Regions from separate parts of the Homo sapiens genome. Here region 2 is linked to region 1. The links come from fine-mapping of genetic effects on gene expression. A gene starts in region 1. The other region holds a variant in brackets. All regions are shown on one strand. Distances are from middle to middle. Region 1 holds the start of COQ10A (coenzyme Q10A). Region 2 has its middle 40 kb from the start of SDR9C7.

Evidence for each region. PIP is the estimated chance that this variant, and not a neighbour inherited with it, causes the effect.
Region 2: its variant is fine-mapped to the expression of COQ10A in spinal cord (GTEx, PIP above 0.99).

The regions. Positions count from the first base shown.
Region 1 is chr12:56,262,247-56,270,461 of GRCh38, reverse strand. COQ10A (coenzyme Q10A) reads right to left here and starts at 3,520. Exons shown (of 5, transcript NM_144576.4): 1 at 3,210-3,520; 2 at 2,522-2,668; 3 at 1,211-1,403; 4 at 901-1,002; 5 at 1-312. The coding sequence starts at 3,343. The coding sequence ends at 145. RefSeq lists enhancers at 2,738-2,807, 3,257-3,426, 2,950-3,449, 3,518-3,627, 6,274-6,443 and 1 more, a cis regulatory region at 3,341 and a silencer at 3,088-3,417.
Region 2 is chr12:56,890,315-56,898,537 of GRCh38, reverse strand. No RefSeq gene overlaps it. Among named protein-coding and RNA genes, the nearest start is that of SDR9C7, 40 kb to the left of the region's middle. The variant G/A (reference allele first, on the strand shown) is at 5,163.

The DNA.
Region 1 (8,215 bases):
GAACCCAATTTCTGGGAAATTGAGAGGAGAAACAGTATTATGAACACAGACTCCTTTCAAATTGGAACAGGAGCCAAACCAAATAAATAAGAGAATTGTGTAGGGAAGTGGGGTAGAAGGGAGGTCAGGGAGCAATCCCTTGCCTCAAGTCTGGTGCACCTCATGGAACATCAGTTCACGGGGGATGGCTGTTTCTGGACCAAACTTGGTGGCTGCCCGACGCTCAAAGGCAGCAACATTCTGTTTGACAACCTCATCAAAAAACATGGTGGCCAGCTGGGAGTGCAGCAGAGAACGAAATTCAAAGGAAATCTGGGAATGGGTAAGAGACAGTCAGAAACTTCCAGACCATGTTGGATAGTCCCTGGCCAAATGCAAGGAAACTGTTCCTCAGTGCCTTTTCTCCCCCTCCCCATCCAGTTCGTGGATCCCCGTAAGAGCCCTAACTTGGGACTGAGCACGGAGTACGAGTCTGACACAAGCTCAGACTAACTGACTTGGGAAATGCTAGCTATACTTAAAGAATAACCCTGTCAGGTCGGTGCGGTGGCTCACGCCTGTAATCCCAGCACTTTGGGAGGCCAAGGCGGACGGATCACCTGAGGCCAGGAGTTTGAGAGCAGCCTAGCCAAAATGGTGAAACCCCGTCTCTACTAAAAATAAAAAATCAGTCGGGCTTGGTAGCAGGCTCCTGTAATCCCAGCTACTTGGGAGGCTGAGGCAGGAAAATCGCTTGAACCCAGAAGGTGGAGGTTGCAGTGAGCCAAGATCGTGCCATTGCACTCCAGCCTGGGTGACGGAGCAAGACTCCATCTCAAATAAATTAATAACCCTGTCACAGTACCCCAGCCCTTCCTCATACCCAGTCCTCGTCCTCTGCTACACAACCTCCTGACTCACCGAAAAGTCCACAGTGCAGGTTCGAGGATAGGCAGGAATACCAGGGCTGAATCGCCAAATAGTCTCTAAGTGGTTGAAGAGCTTGCCATCAGTACAAACAGCCTAGAATAGGGTAATCAGGTAGTTAAATAACATTACTAAGTATAGGATACAATATAAAGGAATTGAAAGCCATTTTCCTTCTTTTCTGATATGAGGGAAATACTTGACACATGGACATAAAGTACTTACAAGGAAGGCCAAAATAGCACTTTCATATGAAACTGCTAAAAACAAAAAATCTTGTCAATCCCTCCCATACAGGCCTCACCTTGACCATGTGAGGTTTGACCATGGAAACTGCAGAGGTGTAACGTTCCATGACAGGTGGAAAGCCAACCTCCAGCTGGGCTTTCAAATGACCCTTACGGCTGGATACCACCAGAGACTTCTTACACCAGGGCACAAACTCACGATACTCCTGGACGTTGGACACCACCTCATACATCTCCTGCATTGAGTACCTAGGAGAAGAAGAATCACAGGCCAAGGAGCTGCCAGCTGGGTCAGGTTCCTCCTTGCTATAGGCCCCTAATTCATACCTTTGCCCACTAACCACGCACCTTCAGGAACTACAGATCCCAAATAAGCCTGGATGAATAACTTCCCAAAAGCAAACGTGTAAATCCTTATGATACTGTTACCTTATATTTTGCAGTTTACAGAATGCTTTTGCATTCATTGTTTATTTTGATTTTAAGAGGGACCATCTAGGGAGAACAGAGGCTGTCAGTTTTACTGGTGATCACACAAGGATCAGATCCCAGCTCTTAACAATTTTTTAACAATGTGGCCTTAGGTAAATTACCTGTGTCTCCATTTTCTCACCTGATTTATAGGTTTGTTGTGAGAATTAAATGAGAAATATCTATGTAAAACATCTAAGTCAAGCTGCTAGCATGTAGCAAGTGCTCGATAATTTAGCTATTATGCTCAAAATATACTAAAAAGGTTACGCTGCTAATTTACACATACTAGGTACCCATAAAAATTATTTTTAAATGGTCACCAGAAAAATACACCCTGTTTTTTGTTTTGTTTTTTGAGACAGTCTTGCTCTGTCGCCCAGGCTGGAGTGCAGTGGGGCAATCTCAGCTCACTGCAACCTCTGCCTCCCAGGTTCCAGCGATTATCCTGCCTCAGCCTCCCAAATAGCTGGGATTAAAGGCGCCCGCCACCGTGCCAGGCTGATTCTTGTGTGTGTGTTTTTTTTTAGTGGAGACAGGGTTTCACCATGTTGGCCAGGCTGGTCTCGAACTCCTGACCTAAAACGATCGGCCCGCCTCAGCCTCCCAAAGTCCTGGGATTACAGGCGTGAGCCACCGCACCCAGCTACGCCCTGTTGTCTTAAAGTATAGTCCAACCCTAGTCTCATTTCACTTAAGCACATGCACAGCAACCAAGAAGGGAGAAATTAAGGTCGGAAGAGTGGCAGGGGAGGACTGAGGATCAGTATTGTAGCTGGGGAGGGGGATGGCTAGGGATGAATCTTGCCCACCGATGATACCCTGACATTCTTGCCTGGACAGGGTTATTTGGAGGGAAAAGGGAGGTGCAAGGATGCAAGGCAGAGAATGCTTACCCCATGATTCTACGCTCCGAGTAAGCCTTTCGCTTGTTGGTGAAGGGAGCAGCAAATCCCATGAAGGAACGGCTCGAAGGTAAGCCAGCCTCAGCCGCCAAGATCTGGGCAGCCCGAGGCAAGAGGAGGCTGCAGGAGGTCAGAAACCTAAGGCCAAAGGAAAGAGGAGCCAACCGTATAGTTCTTCGTAATCCTCTATCATTTGTAGGTGAAGGAGAAGAAGAGTGCATCCCAGACGAAGGTCGTCCAAACAAGCTTTCCCCCCAGCACCTGCTGCAGCCCGCTAGGCTCTCTCTGGCCAGGGAGTCACGAGTGCAAAAGGTCGAGGGCAGCTAAGGACAGGGCTGGGGGCGGGGTGAGGGGGATGAGAAAAAGGGGTGTGTGGGAAGCGCCAGTTGCCTTTGACTGGGCCTACACTACTGCTGAAAGCTAAGACTTTAAGGAAGCATCACTGTCCCCGGGGACCCCAGGGCGCCCGCGAGGGCCAAGAAGAGGTTGGACACTCACCCCGAGAACTTCCCTTCTCGTACAACTTGCAAAAGCATTATCCAAAGCTCTACGTTAGCTCCCAGGGCATGATTGCTGCCAGTCCCCGCCGCGCCTGCATCCCAGTATAGCACCCCTCCACCGCGGAACCCCGGGGTTCGCAGCGACCCCCTGCCCTCAGCCGCGGTCACCTCCCTCTCACCTCATTGGTCGCGGCGGTGGCAGAGGGCCTGGGGGCGGGGCCGGTTGCGCGCCCGGGCTGAGCGAGAGCCGGCAGCAGCGCTCGGCTGCCGCGCGCGTCCCAGCTGGGACCCGCCGCGAGCCCGCCCAGGCCATGCGCGCGACCCTGCCTGGCCCTCTAAGTTCTGACGCGGGCTGCGCCCTCCTCACTCCAAAGGCGGAGCGGCAAGAGGCAGCGGCTGGGCTGGTTCGGGACCTCTGAGCGCAGGGGCGACGGGAGGCGGCAGCACCTCTCGCCTTGCTCCCGTCCAGGCTGCCGGGTAGGCTAGAACTGAAGCCGGGACCGCTGCTCCCGCAGATCTCGGTACCCCCACGTCACGCTGTTGCCATGGCTCGGGCCTGGGAGAGGAAGGAAGGAAGGAAGGGGACAACGCCGCCTGTCGGGAGATGTAGTTTCACACCTGTGGCGAGAAAGGGCACTGGGGTGTGCGTTTGAGAAGCTGCAAAGATGGTTCGGGGACTGAGGTCGCCTGTGGTCACAGGACCCGATAGGTAGGCACAGAGGCGACTTCGTGGGCGTGTCTACCGCAGATATCTGTAGATCCTCTGAACGTCGCTGTTAGAGCCTTAGGTTCTCTAGAGGGACATAGTGAATAGGATAAATGTATATATGAAAGGGAGTTTATTAAGAATTGCCTCACAGGATCACAAGGTAAAGTCTCACATTAGGCCGTCTGCAAGTTGAGGAGCAAGGAGGCCAGTGGTGGATCAGTCCAAGGCCCAAAACCTCAAAAGTAGGGAAGCCGGCAGTGCAGCCTTCAGTCTGTGGCCAAAGCCCCGAGAGCCCTTGGCAAACCACTGGTGTAAGTCCAAGAGTCCAAAAGCTGAAGAACTTGGAGTCTGATGTTCGAGGGCAGGAAGCATCCAGCATGAGAGAAAGACGAAGGCCGGAAGACTTCAGCAAGTCAGCTTCTTCCACCTACTTTTACTTTTATTTATTTATTTATTTATTTATTTATTTATTTATTTATTTGAGACGGAGTCTCGCTCTGTTGCCCAGACTGGAGTGCAGTGGCACGATCTCAGCTCACTGCAACCTTGGCCTCCCAGGTTCAAGCGATCCTCCTGCCTCACCACCCCCGCCCCGCCCCCCTCCCCAGTACCTGGGATTACAGGCATGCGCCACCATGCCCAGCTAATTTTTGTATTTTTAGTAGAGATGGGGTTTCGCCATGTTGGCCAGGCTGGTCTCGAACTCCTGACCTCAGGTGATCCACCCGTCTCGGCTTCCCAAAGTGCTGGGATTACAGGTGTTAGCCACCATGCCTAGCCCTGCCTACTTTTTCTAGCGTCGCTGGCAGCGGATTGGATGGTGCCCACCATTGAGACTGGGTCACTTCCTTCCAGTCCACTGACTTAAATGTTAATCTCCTTTGGCAACACCCTCACAGACACTCAGGAACAACACTTTGCCTCCTTCAATCCAATCAAGTTGACACTCAATCATCACAGAGCCTTTATCATATTCGGCCTTGTTTATAGTTAGAAGCACTGTTCATCTTTGTAGCTTCCACAAGTGGTTAGTGCTGTGTTCTACATTTTTGGGAAAGGAGATTAACATTCCAAGCTCTGGGCTAAGACTGCATAGTTTTTACCTTTAATATTTATAGAAAGAAGTCGAGGTAGGAAGAACCAGATATTCTTAGGACAGAGAACCATCTTTGTTTGAAAAGTGTGCGCTTGATGAAGAGTGAGACCTCATGGACAGAAACCCACGCAATTAAATACCACTATACTACTTTTCATGATTCAAGGAGAAAAAAAAAATGCTCTTGGCTAGGCATGGTGGCTCACGTCTGTAATCCCAGCACTTTGGGAGGCTGAGGCGGGCAGATCACTTGAGGTCAGGAGTTCAAGACCAGCCTGGCCAACATAGTGAGACCTTATCTCTACTAAAAATACAAAAATTAGCCAGGTATGGTGGCGGGCGCCTCTAATCCCAGCTACTCGGGAGGCTGAGGCAGGAGAATCGCTTGAACCCAGGAGGCGGAAGTTGGAGTGAGCTGAGATTGTGCCACTGCACTCCAGCCTGAGCAACAGAGCAAGACTCCATCTCAAAAAAAAAAAAAAAAAAAAAAGGAAAGAAAGAAAAGAAAAGAAAGCAAGCGAGCAAGAAAGAGAAAAAATGCTCTTGATAAAAGTCAGGTGGGCCAGGTGCGGTGGCTCATGCCTGTAATCTCAGCACTTTGGGAGGCCGAGGTGGGTGGATCACGAGGTCAGGAGATCGAGACCATCCTGGCTAACAGGGTGAAACTGCATCTCTACTAAAAATACAAAAAATTAGCCGGGCGTGGTGGTGGGTACCTGTAGTCCCAGCTACTCAGGAGGCCGAGGCAGGAGAATGGCATGAACCCGGGGAGCGGAGCTTGCAGTGAGCCAAGATCGCACCACTGCACTCCAGCCTGGGCAGCAGTGCAAGACTCCATCTCAAAAAAAAAAAAAAAAAAAAGTCAGGCAAACAAAAGAAAAAAAGGAAGGGAAGAAAGAAATCAACAATTAGAAAGAGATTGGGCTAAGTGCAGTGGCTCATGCCTGTAATCCCAGCACTTTGGGAGGCTGAGGTGGGAGGATCACTTGAGGCCAGGAGTTCAAGACCAGCCTGGGCAACATAGTGAGAACTTGTCTCTCCAAAAATAAAAAAGAAAAAAAAAAGAGAGACTAGAACTAGGTGGGTGCAAGAGAATGGTGGTGCCTGCTGTTGAGTTTTAAGAAATTCATGCTATTACAGTACAAGCCTTTCCTCTGCTTGCTTTCTAAATCTTCAGTCAAGCTCTCCACTTTCAGGAAATCTTTCCCTGAGAAGTGTTGTGTGTGGTGGTTATGCAGAGGGGCAGGGGATAAAGTAAATAAAGACTGTGTTGTAGCCAGGCATGGTGGCTCATATCTGTAATTGCAGCACTTTGGGAGGTGAAGGTTGGTGGATCACCCGAGCCCGGGAGTTTGAGACCAGCCTGGGCAATATGGTGAAACCTTGTCTCTACAAAAAATACAAAAAAATTTAGCCAGGCATGGTGGCACATGCCTGTAATCCCAGCTACTTGGGAGTCTGAGTTGGATCACCTGGGCCCAGGAGGTTGAGGCTGCAGTGAGCCGTGATTGCACCACTGCACTCCAGTCTGTGTGACGGGAGTGAGACCCTGTCTCAGAAAAACAAAAACAAAAACAAAAAAAGACTGTGTTGCAATTCTTGTCCAACTAATCTGGAAGAGACATCTGGTCTAGAAACAGGGTAGCTCTTGGGCCGGGCACGGTGGCTCACACCTGTAATCCCAGCACTTTGGGAGGCCAAGGCAGGCGGATCATGAGGTCAGGAGATCAAAACCATCCTGGCCAACGTGGCAAAAACCCATTTCTACAAAAAATACAAAACATGTCCGGGCGCAGTGGCTCACTGCCTGTAATCCCAGCACTTTGGGAGGCCAAGGCGGGTGGATCACGAGGTCAGGAGATGGAGACCATCCTGGCTAACATGGTGAAACCCTGTCTCTACTAAAAATACAAAAAATTAGCTGGGCATGGTGGCGGGCGCCTGTAGTCCTGGCTACTCAGGAGGCTGAGGTTGAGGCAGGAGAATGGCCTGAACCTGGGAGGCGGAGGTTGCAGTAGGCCGAGATCACGCCACTGCAGTCTAGCCTGGGCGACACAGCGAGACTCCGTTTCAAAAACAAAACAAAACAAAACAAAAAGCCAGATGTGGTGGTACGCACCTATAGTCCCAGCTACTCGGGAGGCTGTGGCAGAGAATCACTTGAGCCCGGGAGGCAGAGGTTGCAGTGAGTGGATATTGTGCCACTGCACTCCAGCCTGGGGGACAGACGGAGACTCTGTCTCAAAAAAAAAAAAAAAAAAAATGCGGGGCGAGATGGTTCGCACCTGTAATCCCAGCACTTTGGGAGGCCAAGCAGGTGGATCACCTGAGGTTGGGAGTTCAAGACCAGCCTGACCAACAAGGAGAGACCTCATCTCTACTAAAAATACAAAATTAGCCGGGCGTGGTGGTGCATGCCTGTAATCCCAGCTACTCGGGAGGCTGAGGTAGGAGAATCACTTGAACCCCAGAGGTAGAGGTTGCGGTGAGCCTAGATGGCGCCATTGCACTCCAGCCTGGGCAACAAGAGCAAAACTCCGTCTCAAAAAAAAAGTTTGAGCCCATCTTCTCTGGATTTCAAGTAAGCAAGAGCCATTGGGTGATCATCAAAACCCATTTTTAATAAGCTGTTCTACCTCTATAGCAGTTAGTACTACCAATTCAAAATAATTATTGACCAAATGAATATGTTTTATTATTTATCTATTTAATTTTTGAGACGGGGGTCTCACTCTGTCACCCAGATTGGAGTGCATTGGTGTAATCTCGGCTCACTGCAACCTCTGCCTTCCAGGTTCAAGTGATATTCCCACCTCAGCCTCCCAAATAGCTGCGACCACAGGGGCACACTACCACATTTTTGGTAGAGACAGGGTTTCATCTTCTTGCCCAGGTTGGTCTCAAACTCCTGAACTCAAGCAATATGTCCACGTTGGCCTTCCAAAGTGCTGGGATTACAGGCATGAGCCACCATGCCTGGACTATAAATGTGTTTTGTCAACTTTTCTTTTTTTTTTTAATTTTTTTTTTTTTTAATTTTGAGACAGAGTTTCACTCTTGTTGCCCATGCCGGAGTGCAATGGCGCGATCTCGGCTCACTGCAACCTCAGCCTCCTAGGTTCAAGCGATTCTCCTACCTCAGCCTCCCAAGTAGTTGGGATTACAGGCATGCACCACCACACCCGGCTAATTTTGTATTTTTAGTAGAGACGGGGTTTCTCCATGTTGATCAGGCTGGTCTTGAACTCCCAACCTCAGGTGATCCACCTGCTTGGCCTCCCAAAGTGCTGGGATTACAGGCATGAGCCACCGTGCCCGGCCGCCACCTTTCCGTTTATCCTCTTCCGTGATACCCCAAGTTGGGTGATGATCTCACTTAT
Region 2 (8,223 bases), 630 kb before region 1:
GGCACCTACTGTAAGTGAGCACTGTGCTAGGGCCTGGGGATATGATCGTGAACATGCCACAGTTCTCACCCTAGAGCAACTTTCAGTGTCAAGAAGTAGACACAAATAAATAAGAATTTATAATAACATATGATATGCATAATGGCAAGAGAAGAATAGGCTGTCATAGGAACTCATACAAGGCAGAGGCAATTAGTCTAGGCTTGGGAGGTCAGAGAAGATTTCTTGGAAGAAGTAATGTCTGCACTGAGAGTAAGGAATGAGTCAGAACTAGGCAGGCAGCTAACTGGCCTACACTGTGCATTATTCACAAATGTTCAAGACCAGGCAAGTTTAACTCAACCTCTCACCCACTCACCTTACTTCTAGGTCACCTTCTCTACTTTGTCTCCTTGCCTCACCCTACCTATGTAATTTGGCATTTTATCTTCCAGGAATTCCAGCTCATATTGACATTTATTTTAGCCAGATAGGTTTACAAAGGTAAATGTGTAGCAATAAAAGGGATCCTTGGCCTGGCAATTGAGAAACAAAATCCCCAAATTCCTGGAAGCTTCTGAGCATGAGGTGCCAAGCCAATTGGCTGGGCTTCTCTACAAGAGTTCAGGTACCTGATGGGGGTTGGACTAGATAACCTTGAAATTCTAGTCCTGGGTCTACTATTGAGTAACTGTGTGATGTTGGGCAAGTTTCTTTTTTTTAATTTTAAGTTCTGGGATACATGTGCTGAATGTGCAGGTTTGTTACATAGGTATATACGTGCCATGGTGGTTTGCTGCAACTATCAACCTGTCTTCTAGGTTTTAAGCCCTGCATGCATTAGGTATTTGTCCTAATGCTCTCCCTCACCTTTCCCCCATGCCCTGACAGGCCTTGGTGTGTGATGCTCCCCTCCCTGTGTCCATGTATTCTCATTGTTCAACTCCCACTTATGAGTAAGAACATGTGGTGTTTGGTTTTCTGTTCCTGTGTTAGTTTGCTGAGGATGATGGTTTCCAGCTTCATCCATGTCCCTGCAAAGGACATGAGCTCATTCCTTTTTATGGCTGCATAGTATCCCATGGTGTATCTGTGATGTTGGGCATTTTCTTAACCTTGCTAGGCTCTCTTGGTTTTTTATTAGCAAAAGAGAGGGTGTAAGTCCCCAGATGCCTTCCACCTTTAATAGGAAGTGAATCAAGTTTTTATGCAAAGCTAACTAGAATAGATTCTTGAATGGACAGTACCATAGAAAGCAAGCTGAGGTCCTCACTAAAATGAGAAAGATTCTACCTAAAGTGCCAAGGTAACGTTTAGGAATAGAGCTAGTGGGCTTGCAATCTACCCCAATAGCTCTCTCAGGCTTACAATGCACTTCTCTCATAGGTCTTTTTTCCACGTGGTTGAAGAAGGTTTCCATTGTGCTTCTATAGGTTGCACTTACTTATAAATGTTATTGATTGAAGTTAACCAGATCTGTCTCTAGGGACAGACAGCAAGGGACACATACTGTTTCGTATCCCCACACTTGTTACTGCGTCTGGTTATATTCATTTCTCTCTCTTACTAACATGTTTTCCTGGAAGAACCCCTGCTTCTAACTGGGACTAGGCAGAAACCTACAGTAAGTAAGGTAGACCCATTCCACAGCTCACTCCAGGTGTCCAGATGCCACCTGCAAGCTTAAGCCAAACACACTGATGGCCACTAACTCCAATATAATGACAAGTCCTATTCTGATAAATCCCACAATAATATGACCTATTGGCTGAATACATGTTGGCTAAATATGCAAGTCTTCAATATGCTCAAAGAGTCAACCCAAATTCTCTGTTTTCCAATTTCCAGTTCTAGAATAAATAACTTCTCTTTTAACACTCCTGCTGGGAAGGGAAGGTGGTGGACAGCACTTTCATCTAGTTTAAGCCTGGGGTTCTTACATGTTCCAGAGAGCAGGAGGGGGTGCCCGAGGTCGAGACATCCACACAGCTAATAATGTGTGTGTGTGGTGCATGTGTTGGGGGGGTGTGTGTGTGTGGTGTGGTGTGGTTTGTGTGTGTGTTGTGTGTGGTGTGTATGTGGTGCGTGTGGGGGGGTGTGTGGGGTGTGTGTGCAGTGACTGTGTGTTGTGTGTGTGTGATGTGGTGTGTGTAATGTGTGTGTTTGGTGCATGTGTGGTGTGTGTGGTATAGTGTGTGTGGTGTATGTGTGATGAGTGTTGTGTGTGTGGTATGTGTGTTGTGTGTGTGTGGTGTGTGTGTGGTGCATGTGTGTGGTGCATGTGGTGTGGTGTATGTGGTGTGCATGTGTGTGGTGTGTATGATGTGATGTGTGTGTGTGTGGTGTGGTGTGTGGTGGTGTGTGTGGTGTAATGTGTGTATGTGGTGTGTGTGTGATGTGCATGTGTGTGTTGTGTATGGTGTGGTGTGTGTGGTGTGCATGTGTGTAGTGTGTGTGCATGATGTGTGCACAAGGTAAGGATGGTGGAGGAGGGCAAGGGATGTCAAGTTGGTTTTCATTTCATTTGGGGAAAATGAAAGGTGAATGATTGAGCCGTTCATAACTGGCACAGGCATAAGGGGACTGTTTACTACAGACCCATTCTAACCTGCAAATAGTGGTGTCTTCTTGACCCTACAGTGCTGGGCTCTTATGAAGTGCTCATGTTTGTGGGATCAAAGAATGTCACATATGTATTTGCTTCCTAAAGGAAATGTGTATTTGTCAGGCATATTTTCCCCTTGTAGCAATGTTGTTTATGTTGTTCCTGAGCAGATATTAAAAGGAGTGCTTGAGTATACATTTAATAAACCTCACCCGTGTTATAGACCCTGGAGTCTCATCTGTTTTTCCCTTGTTACCATTTACCTTAAAACAAAGGAGCAAACAAGAAAACACACACACACACACAAGCCCTTTTATCATTTTTCCTCATTATATAAGTAACATATGCTCATTGTAAGACATCAGAACACATGGATAAGAAAGAAGGAGGAAATAATAATGAGCATATATGTCTCATTATTATTAGTAGAGATAATAGTATAGTACTAGTACTAATAGATATAGTTAGTAGAGATAATATCTCTACCACTCAGAGACAACCAGTATTAATATGTTTGTGACCATACATACAGACTTTTTTTGATGCATGTCTATGGTTTAAAAATGGATCACAGGGCTGAGTGCAGTGGCTCATGCCTGTAATCCAAGCACTCTGGGAGGAGGCCAAGGTGGGAGGATCACTTGAGCCCAGGAGTTTGAGACCAGCCTGGGCAACATGGCAAAACCTCGTCTCTACAAAAAAAAAAAAAAAGTACAAAAAAAAAATTAGCCAGGCATGGTGGCAAATCTCTGTGGTCTCAGCTACTCAGGAGGCTGAGGTGGGAGGATTGTTTGAGCACAGGAGGTCAAGGCTGCTGTGAGCTGTGATCTTGCCACTATACACACTGTGATCTTGCCTGGGTGACAGAGCAAGATTGTCTCAAAAAATTTTTTTAATTAAACAAATAAATAAATACTGTGTCATAGTGTTCATATGATACTTTTTTCTCTTAATACACATTTAAGTGCTAAATATATTTTATATCGTATTTACATCACAGTGTTTTTATTGTATGACTGTGCCACATCTTATCTATTCTTGGCTGGCTGGATTGTTTCCAATATTTAGCGATCATTCACAGCACTGCAAGATAGTTAAATGTTTAAGTGGTTATTTTATTGTTACCTTTCATATAGTAAAATTTTGAAAATAAAAATGCTGATCCAATGGGTGTGCATATTTTATGTGGTTTTTAAGATTATTTTACGAGCTACCAAGTTACCTTCAGAACGCTCAATCAGTGTCTGAATACCCAGGTCCTTGAGTTCTTGCCAGCCTTAGACACTTATTTATAACAGAAACAAGCAAACAAGACATTTGGTTATTTTAAAGTAATTTTTGTTTTACTTGGCATTTCTTTAATTGCTGGGGAGGTAAAATTTCTTTTCATATGTTTATTGATGTTTTTCTTTTTAGCCAAGTCAGTATTTGAGTCTTTTGTTAATTTTTCTGTTGAATAATTTAAATGCCTTGTTTTCCATGGGAATTATATCAGTGCCTAGAATCGCCCTGACTGGAAGCCCATTTTGTAATTATAGGTGTTAAGTGAGGCTTTGAGTGTGTGCATGTATGTATGTGTGTGTTCTTGAGCAGGACATTTATGAGTAGGAAAATCTTTTCTGGGGATACTTTGATTATTAAAATTAATGTTTGATTTGTTAAACTTACAACTAAAAACATATTTTTTCATAATTTGTTTAATCTATTTTATTTTATTTATACAATTTAGCAAATATTATCAATTTCTTTTTTTTGATAGTGAACATTTAATTTAAACCTGACAAAAAATACATCAATGCATATGCTACCAAGACTTAGTAATTAAATCATATTAGGATTGAGAAGCTCTTATTCTAGCATGATTTCTATATGAGCTGCCATATTGTTCACTTTGACTCTTTTTTTTTTATTGTACTTTAAGTTCTAGGGTACATGTGCACAATGTGCAGGTTTGTTACATATGTATACATGTGCCATGTTGGTGTGCTGCACCCATTAACTCGTCATTTACATTAGGTATCTCCCCTAATGGTATCCCTCCCCCTCCCCCTACCCCACGATAGACCCCAGTGTGTGATGTTCCCCATCCTGTGTCCAAGTGTTCTCATTGTTCAATTCCCACTTATGAATGAGAACATGCGGTGTTTGGTTTTCTATCCTTGCGATAGTTTGCTGAGAATGATGGTTTCCAGCTTCATCCATGTCCCTACAAAGGACATGAACTCATCCTTTTTTATGGCTGTATAGTATTCCATGGTCTATATGTGCCACATTTTCTTAATGCAGTCAATCACTGATGGACATTTGGGTTGGTTCCAAGTCTTTGCTGTTGTGAATAGTGCCGCAATAAACATACATGTGCATGTGTCTTTATAGTAGCATGATTTATAGTCCTTTGGGTATATACCCAGTAATGGGATGGCTGGGTCAAACGGTATTTCTAGTTCTAGATCCTTGAGGAATTGCCACTGTCTTCCACAACAGTCGAACTAGTTTACAGTCCCACCAACAGTGTAAAAGTGTTCCTATTTCTCCACATCCTCTCCAGCACCTGTTGTTTCCTGACTTTTTAATGATC[G/A]CCATTCTAACTGGTGTGAGATGGTATCTCATTGTGGTTTTGATTTGCATTTCTCTGATGGCCAGTGAAGATAAGCATTTTTTCATGTGTCTCTTCACTGCATAAATGTCTTCTTTTGAGAAGTGTCTGTTCATATCCTTTGCCCACTTTTTGATGGGGTTGTTTGATTTTTTCTTGTAAATTTGTTTAAGTTCTTTGTAGATTCTGGATATTAGCCCTTTGTCTAATGGATAGATTGCAAAAATTTTCTCCCATTCTGTAGGTTGCCTGTTCACACTGATGATAGTTTATTTTGCTGTGCAGAAGCTCTTTAGTTTAATTAGATACCATTGGTCAATTTTGGCTTTTGTTGCCATTGCTTTTGGTGTTTTAGTCATGGAGTCCTTGCCCATGCCTATGTACTGAATAGTATAGCCTAGGTTTTCTTCTAGGGTTTTTATGGTTTTAGGTCTAACGTTGAAGTCTTTAATCCATCTTGAATTAATTTTTGTATAAGGTGTAAGGAAGGGATCCAGTTTCAGCTTTCTACATATGGCTAGCCAGTTTTCCCAGCACCATTTATTAAATAGGGAATCCTTTCCCCATTTCTTGTTTTTGTCAGGTTTGTCAAAGATCAGATGGTTTTAGATGTGTGGTGTTATTTCTAAGGGCTCTGTTCTGCTCCATTGGTCTATATGTCTGTTTTGGTACCAGTACCATGCTGTTTTGGTTACTGTAGCCTTGTAGTATAGTTTGAAGTCAGGTAGCATGATGCCTCCAGCTTTGTTCTTTTGGCTTAGGATTGTCTTGGCAATGTGGGCTCTTTTTTGGTTCCATATGAACTTTAAAGTAGTTTTTTCCAATTCTGTGAAGAAAGTCATTGGTAGCTTGATGGGGATGGCATTGAATCTATAAATTACCCTAGGCAGTATGGCCATTGTCATGATATTGACTTTTCCTATTCATGACCATGGAATGTTCTTCCATTTGTTTGTATCCTCTTTTATTTCATTGAGCCGTGGTTTGTAGTTCTCCTTGAAGAGGTCCTTCACATCCCTTGTAAGTTGGATTCCTAGGTATTTTAATCCTTTGTAGCAATTGTGAATGGGAGTTCACTTATGATTTGGCTCTCAGTTTGTCTGTTATTGGTATATAGGAATGCTTGTTATTTTTGCACATTGATTTTGTATCCTGAGACTTTGCTGAATTTGCTTATCAGCTTGAGGAGATTTTGGGCTGAGACGATGGGTTTTTCTAAATATACAATCATGTCGTCTGCAAACAGGGACAATTTGACTTCCTCTTTTCCTAGGTGAATGCCCTTTATTTCTTTCTGTTGCCTGATTGCCCTGGCCAGAACTTCCAACACTGTGTTGAAAAGGAATGGTGAGAGAGGGCGTCCCTGCCTTGTGCCAGTTTTCAGAGGGAATGCTTCCAGTTTTTGCCCATTCAGTATGATATTGGCTGTGGGTTTGTCATAAATAGTTCTTATTATTTTGAAATACATCCCATCAATACCTTGTTTATTGAGTTTTTAGCATGAAGGGCTGTTGAATTTTGTCAAAGGCCTTTTCTGCATCTATTGAGATAATCATGTGGTTTTGTGTTTGGTTCTGTTTGTGTGATGGATTATGTTTGTTGATTTGCATATGTTGAACCAGACTTGCATCTCAGGGATAAAGCCAAATTGGTCTTGTTGGATAAGCTTTTTGATGTGCTGCTAGATTTGGTTTGCCAGTATTTTATTGAGGATTTTCACATCAATGTTCATCAGGGATATTGGTCTAAAATTCTCTTTTTTTGTTGTGTCTCTGCCAGGCTTTGGTATCAGGATGATGCTGGCCTCATAAAATGAGTTAGGGAGAATTACCTCTTTTTCTATTGATTGGAATAGGTTTATAAGGAATGGTACCAGTTCCTCTTTCTTCCTCTGGTAGAATTCGGCTGTGAATCCATCTGGTCCTGGACTTTTTTTTGGTTGATAGGCTGTTAATTATTGCCTCAATTTCAGAGTCTGTTATTGGTCTATTCAGGGATTCAAGTTCTTCCTGGTTTAGTCTGGGAGGGTATGTGTGTCCTGGAATGTATCCGTTTCTTCTAGATTTTGTAGTTTATTTGTGTAGAGGTGTTTATAGTATTCTCTGATGGTAGTTTGTGTTTCTGTGGGATCAGTGCTGATATCCCCTTTCTCATTTTTATTGTGTCTATTTGATTCTTCTCTCTTTTCTTCTTTATTAGTCTTGCTAGCGGTCTATCAATTTTGTTGATCTTTTCAAAAAACCAGCTCCTAGATTCATTGATTTTTTGAAGGGTTTTTGTGTCTCTATCTCCTTCAGTTCTGCTCTGCTCTTAGTTATTTCCTGCCTTCTGCAAGCTTTTCCATTTGTTTGCTCTTGCTTGTCTAGTTCTTTTGATTGTGATGTTAGGATGTTGATTTTAGATCTTTCCTGCTTTCTCTTGTGGGCATTTTGTGCTATAAATTTCCCTCTACATACTGCTTTAAATGTGTCCCAAAGATTCTGGTACATTGTGTTTTTGTTCTCATCAGTTTCAAAGACCATCTTTATTTCTGCCTTCATTTCGTTTTTTAGCCAGTAGTCATTCAGGAGCAGGTTGTTCAGTTTCCATGTAGTTGAGTGGTTTTGAGTAAGTTTCTTAATCCTGAGTTCTAATTTGATTGCACTGTGGTCTGAGGGACAGTTTGTTGTGATTTCTGTTCTTTTACATTTGCCGAGGAGTGCTTTGCTTCCGACTATGTTGTCAATTTTGGAATACGTGTGATGTGGTGCTGAGAGGAATGTATATTCTGTTGATTTGGGGTGGAGAGTTCTGTAGACGTCTATTAGGTCAGCTTGGTGCAGAGCTGAGTTCAAGTCATGGATATCCTTGTTAACCTTCTGTCTCGTTGATCTGTCTAATCTTGACAGTGGGGTGTTAAAGTCTCCCGTTATTATTGTGTTGGAGTCTAAGTCTCTTTTTAGGTCTCTAAGGACTTGCTTTATGAATCTGGGTGCTCCTGTATTGGGTGCATATATATTTAGGATAGTTAGCTCTTCTTGTTGAATTGATCCCTTTACCATTA